Regions from separate parts of the Homo sapiens genome. Here region 1 is linked to region 2. The links come from fine-mapping of genetic effects on gene expression. A gene starts in region 2. The other region holds a variant in brackets. All regions are shown on one strand. Distances are from middle to middle. Region 1 has its middle 26 kb from the start of CHAER1. Region 2 holds the start of HOPX (HOP homeobox).

Region 1 (2,915 bases), 49 kb before region 2:
GGTTCTCTGTTTTTCTTATGATACAGAAATAGACATAGAGAAGGCAGACTTGAGAGTTAGGAGGACAAGGGGTAAAATTCCTGGTGGCTTGGGTCAATTCTAGGATCACCCTTTTGTGTATAAAAAGGGGCTACATGAACAGGATACTAAAGAATGAAGCCAGAAGACAAAGTCAATTTATATCATAAGGAGCTAAGAGAGAAGTATGGAAAAAAGAAAATAAAAAATAATCTGGGCTGGGTTTCAGGGAACATTCGTAGAGGAAAGCTACCAAATGAAGGGCTCTGAGAACCAAAATGTGCTGCTGTAGGTTATAGGTTAAATCTTTTTTAATGCCAATTAAATGTTGGAATTTTGTTTTGGTTGCTTAGCTATGTTTTTTTTTGTTTGTTTGTTTTTGTTTTTTTGAGACGGAGTCTCACTCTGTCGCCCAGGCTGGAGTGCAGTGGCGCGATCTCAGCTCACTGCAAGCTCCGCCTCCTGGGTTCACGCCATTCTCCTGCCTCAGCCTCCCGAGCAGATAGGACTACAGGCGCCTGCCACCACGCCCGGCTAATTTTTTGTACTTTTAATAGAGACGGGGTTTCACCGTGTTAGCCAGGATGGTCTCGATCTCTTGACCTCATGATCCGCCCACCTCGGCCTCCCAAAGTGCTGAGATTACAGGCTTGAGCCACCCTGCCTGGCCTATGTTTTTAATGTTTTATTTTAATGTCACAGTGTGCCAGACTGGACAGTATTGTATTCCAGCTTATATGTGGGTTATTGAATAGCATAATGGTTCACATCAGGAATTCTGGAACCAAACTCCCAGCTCCCAAATCCTACTTCCACCACTCAATAGCTGTGTTACCTTTGGCAAGATATAGTACTTGCTTCTCTGTGGCTCAGTTGCTTTGTCTGTAAAATAAGTTAATGAGAGCCTCTACTTCGGAAAATTGTTATGAGGATTAAATGAGTTACTATTTGTAAAGTTCATAGAAAGCTCATGCAAAGCCTGGCATGTAATTGGCGCTATAGAAGCATTAGCTATTATTAGTACAGGGACATCTAAGGTTATGAGATTTTTCTGTCTTGGTTCAACCAAGGTGGTGAAGACAACTGTCAGAAGAATTATCTTCAGCAGAGCAAATCTTAAGTTTAGGGAAAGTTTGGGCTGGGCACGGTGGTTCATGCCTGTAATCCCAGCACTTTGGGAGGCTGAGGTGGGCAGATCACTTGAGACCAGGAGTTCGAGACCAACCTGGCCAATATGGTAAAGCCCTGTCTTTACTAAAAATATAAAAATTAGCTGGGCGTGGTGGCACATGCCTGTAACCCCAGCTACTTGGGAGGAGGCTGAGGCATTAGCATCACTTGAACCCAGGAGGCGGAGGTTGCAGTGAGCCAAGATTGCTCCACTGTACTCCAGCCTGAGTGGCAGAGTGAGACTCTACCTCAAAAAAAAAAAAAGTGACATCTGGTCATCATTGTCATATTCTATGAGTTACAGATAAGTCACCAGGTGCAGCCCACATTCACAGTGAGCAAATCACACAGGGGTGAGTGCCTGGAGGCGGGGCTCATTGGGGACCA[C/T]TCAGGCTGGAGTGCAGTGGCATGATCTCACCTCACTGCAACCTCTGCTTCCCGAGTTCAAGCAATTCTCCTGCCTCTGAGTAGCTGGGACTACAGGCACACGCCGCCATGCCCTACTAGTTTTTTGTATTTTAGTAGAGATGGGTTTTCACTGTGTTGCCCACGCTGGTCTTGAACTCCTGAGCTCAGGCAATCCACCTGCCTGGGCCTCCCAAAGTGCTAGGATTATAGGTGTGAGCCACTGCGCCTGGTCTCACTTTCTTGATTTGGTTACAAAAGGTTGTGACTTCACTCTTGCTCGCAAACTCTCTTCGAGTCTCTTGCTAGATTTTTTTTTTTTTAACAGTGTCTCGCTCTGTTGCCCAGGCTGGAGTGCACTGGTGCCATCATGGCTCACTGCAGCCTTGTCCTTCTGGGCTCAAGTCGTCCTCCTACCTCAGCCTCCCAAGTAGCTGGGACCACATGCACTTGTGCCATCATGCCCAGCTAAAATTCTTAAATTTTGTAGAGATGAGGGCTTGCTGTGTTATCCAGGTTGTTCTTGAATTCCTTGGCTCAAGTGATCCTTCTATCTCAGTCCCGCAAAGGGCTGGCGTTACAGGTGTGAACTGCCATGCCTAGCCTCTTGCTAGCTTTGATGAGGCAAGCTGCCATGCTGGAGAAGCCCCTATGGTTAGGTACTGAGGCCAGGCTGTGGCCAACAGCTTAAAAGGAATTGAGGCCTTCGGTTCAGTAACCCCTGAGGAACCACTGAGTGAGTTGCAAATGGATCCTGACTCAGTTGAAAATTTGATGGCAGCCTTGTGAGACATCCTGAAACAGAGATCCCAGCTAAGGGATCCTGTCCAGATTCCTGACCCCAGAAACTGCAATAATAAATACGTGCTGTTTTAAACCATTATGTTTAGAAGTAATTTTTTACACAGCAATAGATAACTAATACAACCATGTACCAAAGTAAGAACTTGGGAGTTGGATTAAGGGCAGAGGTTCAGCTCCAGGACATCAGGGTGGAAGTAGGGGAGGGCTTGTGGGAGAGAGCCACTATAGAAAGAGCATCCCGGCCAGGCGTGGTGGCTCACGCCTGTAATCCCAGCACTTTGGGAGGCTGGGCAGGTGGATCACGAGGTCAGGAGTTTGAGACCAGCCAGACCAATATGGTGAAACACCGTCTCTACTAAAAATACAAAAACTAGCCGGGCGTGGTGGCACGCGCCTGTAATCTCAGCTACTCAGGAGGCTGAGGCAGGAGAATCGCTTGAACCTGGGAGGTGGAGGTTGCAGTGAGCCGAGATCGTGCCATTGCACTCCAGCCTGGTGACAGTGTGAGACGCAAAAAA
Region 2 (2,915 bases):
ACAATAATAATAATAATGCTGTGGGTATCAAATGATAAACAAGACATAGACCCTGCCCATTCAAAAAATCGTGGCAGCAAGAATCCAGATTTGGCCATAGAATGGTCAGAAGTTAGGCATTGAATTAGGCAGGAAACAAAAGAATTCCTCTGGTAACCAAGGTTGGGTTAACCTGGGCCCCCTGTCTCTACTCTTTCCCACACATGTTTTATAACCGTCACCCCCTTTTCCAAGAGGGAAAGAGGTATTCTGAATGAGCGCTGCTCTTCTTTCACATATGGCTACTGTTCCCAAGAGACTCAAGTGGGCTTTCTCTTTCTCTGCTGAAGTGAATAATATAGGGTGTGGCTCTCTGGATGGCACTTACCGGTTTGTGCTACAAACCAGCAAATACACACAGATAATCCCACAGATGATCTCACCAGACCTTGTCTCCCTTCCCTCATTCCCTCAAAATCATACCCACCTAATAATGTTTAGTGCACTGCAATTGAGTATTAGCTCCCGTATCTAGCTAATAAAATACGTAAACATCCAACAGCCGGGTCCTCACACCCACACACATACCCTCGCCTTTAGAAACATTTCCACGGATTGTCACACGAGCCCCTAAACTCTCTGTCACACTCTGCATGCATCTTCCCACAGACTTGCTCACACACTGGCTTTTTATTCGCAAGCCCATGGGGAATCTTTCACCTCTTAGACAGGAATTTCATTAACGAAGGGGAGGGGATGGTAAGAGGAAAGTACAGATGCAGGGGAAATAAATGAGAATCGTTTTTGAGGGAGACCTAAAACTGTATCATCCTAGCCCGAATCTCTCCCTTTTAACTGTTCTTTATGTGTACATTCTGTGCCCAAAAGAAAACAACCTTTCATTAATTGGGCAATTGTCCAGGCTCTTAGCTTGGCATCCAGCTCTCAGAGCTGTGAAATCAACCGCACCAGATCTACGCTTTGAAATGAGGCAACATCTAACTGGAAACTCGCTCAAAGTAAGGAAGTGGATGAGAAGACTCAGGGTCCCTTTTCTCTTCCCCGTCTTCTCTCAGCCACATCTCTCTTATCCTATCTTGGTGAAGAAGCTTGCTTGGCTAGGAGAGAGGTCAGGGACGAGAAGATAGTGACGAGAAAGTTCCATGAGACTCTCAGAAGTCCCAGCCTGAACATCAAACCTGAATAACCAGGAGAGACGTAACCTCGGCATACTTTCAGTGGTTTACCTCCTGCCCACGCTGCAGGTTTTTCAGGTCCTTGCTCGAGTGTGTGCTCATAGGCGTAAATAAACGTGCTATCAGCAGCCTGCGTCAGCCAGCCCAGCTATTTAAGCAGGCTGGCATCAGCAAACACAGCTTCCAAACCCAGGGCTTGCGCTTGCCTTTGCCTCTTCCACGTAAGTACCTTTCAAAGGTCTGCCTTTTATGCAGAGGAATGAGTTTGTGCAGGAACTAGACCAAAATGCTATCGTTACCGTATTTGCTCATCTGTTGGAAAACGGTAGAGGTGAAAGGGAGAATAGGAATGACAAGCTTACCCCCAAGCAGAAGCTAGGAAATGCTGCTGGGTGTAAGACATCAGTCCCTTACAAACAAAACTGCATGGGGTCGAGGGGAATTTGGAGGAAGGGGAGTTGGTGTTGGTCTTTTGGCCAAGCAGGTGAGATGTTTTTCTTACTCGCTTCTATTTTGGAAAGATAACTTTGAAACCAGCATTTGTCAGATGCCTATGATTTTCTCATTTAGAAGCAGATTATTGTTATTCTACATCCCAGACTTTTATCTAAAATCAGACATAATATCGTTTTAAAATATGTTTTGTGTTTGACAAGGGGAAGTGAGGGAGCTGTCTCTGGATGGAGAAGTGGCTTGATTTTGAATTTGCAGTTTATTGTTACTTCTGGTTCTCATAATACTTATTTATAACAACAAAAACAGTGATTTTTTTTTTTTGAGATGAAAAGGAATCCCAGGCTCTGGGGTTTAGAGAAAGTATAGGTTTGTGATATGTGAGTGGCATCCAAGTATTCAGGGTAAACTGTTAAGTAAAGTGGAATAAGAATCATTGAATAAAAAGGTACAATCTATCACATAGTTCAGATAAGAAGCTCTTAAAGAGAAAAGGAATGCAAACAGTTCCCATGAAGTGGCACTGCTACTGGACAGGGCCCTGTAGTGTGTTTAGTTAAGTAAGGTTAAGTATAACCAGGGCAGGCAGAGAACAAAACGAAGGTGCTGGGGAGGTGGGAAGGGAGGAGAAGGGAGGAGCAGATAGTAAAGGATTTATAATTAAACAACAGATTCATGAAAAGCAGATAGGAATAGAGCAGGGCATTAATTCCATAGTCTATCCCTTTGTATCAAGAATCTGGTGAAAGCCAAGGACCTTTCTCAGGTATTCATTCCTCGCTTCCTGAGCCTCCCCTTCCACCCCACACCCCAACCCACACCTTGACTCTCACTTTCTGGACTCCTAGAAGTCCACGGACCTAAATGAAGCTCATATGCTTATTATTATTTTTTTTTAACTGGGCTGAAGCTGCCGACTGAGGAACCTCTCCAGAAGTGGTGGCGAGTTAAAAACCTTCAACGTGGCAGGCACTTCTTAGCCACCAAACTGAAGCTTGGTTTTAAGTTCATGAAGGTCTTATGTCAATCAAGCAAATAATGATTAAGGGCTATATCTGAGAAAAGATAAGTTGAAGGCCAAGAGGAAGAGAAAAGAAAAAATGGATCTTGTTCTCAAAGAGCTTGAAATCTAAAGTCCAGGGAGATAATTAGATGTTATGTCCATGCACAAAATAGGATGTGTTGAGTGATTACATTTGTATAAAATGATAGAAAATGCAAACTAATCTATAGCAAAAAGAAAGTGGCTGGGTGCGGTGGCCCACGCCTGTAATCCCAGCACTTTGG

What was found. PIP is the estimated chance that this variant, and not a neighbour inherited with it, causes the effect.
Region 1: its variant is fine-mapped to the expression of HOPX in tibial artery (GTEx, PIP 0.92).

Annotation. Positions count from the first base shown.
Region 1 is chr4:56,728,905-56,731,819 of GRCh38, reverse strand. No RefSeq gene overlaps it. Among named protein-coding and RNA genes, the nearest start is that of CHAER1, 26 kb to the right of the region's middle. The variant C/T (reference allele first, on the strand shown) is at 1,576.
Region 2 is chr4:56,679,736-56,682,650 of GRCh38, reverse strand. It overlaps HOPX (HOP homeobox), which reads left to right and starts at 1,355. Exons shown (of 4, transcript NM_032495.6): 1 at 1,355-1,396. RefSeq lists a silencer at 1,308-1,357.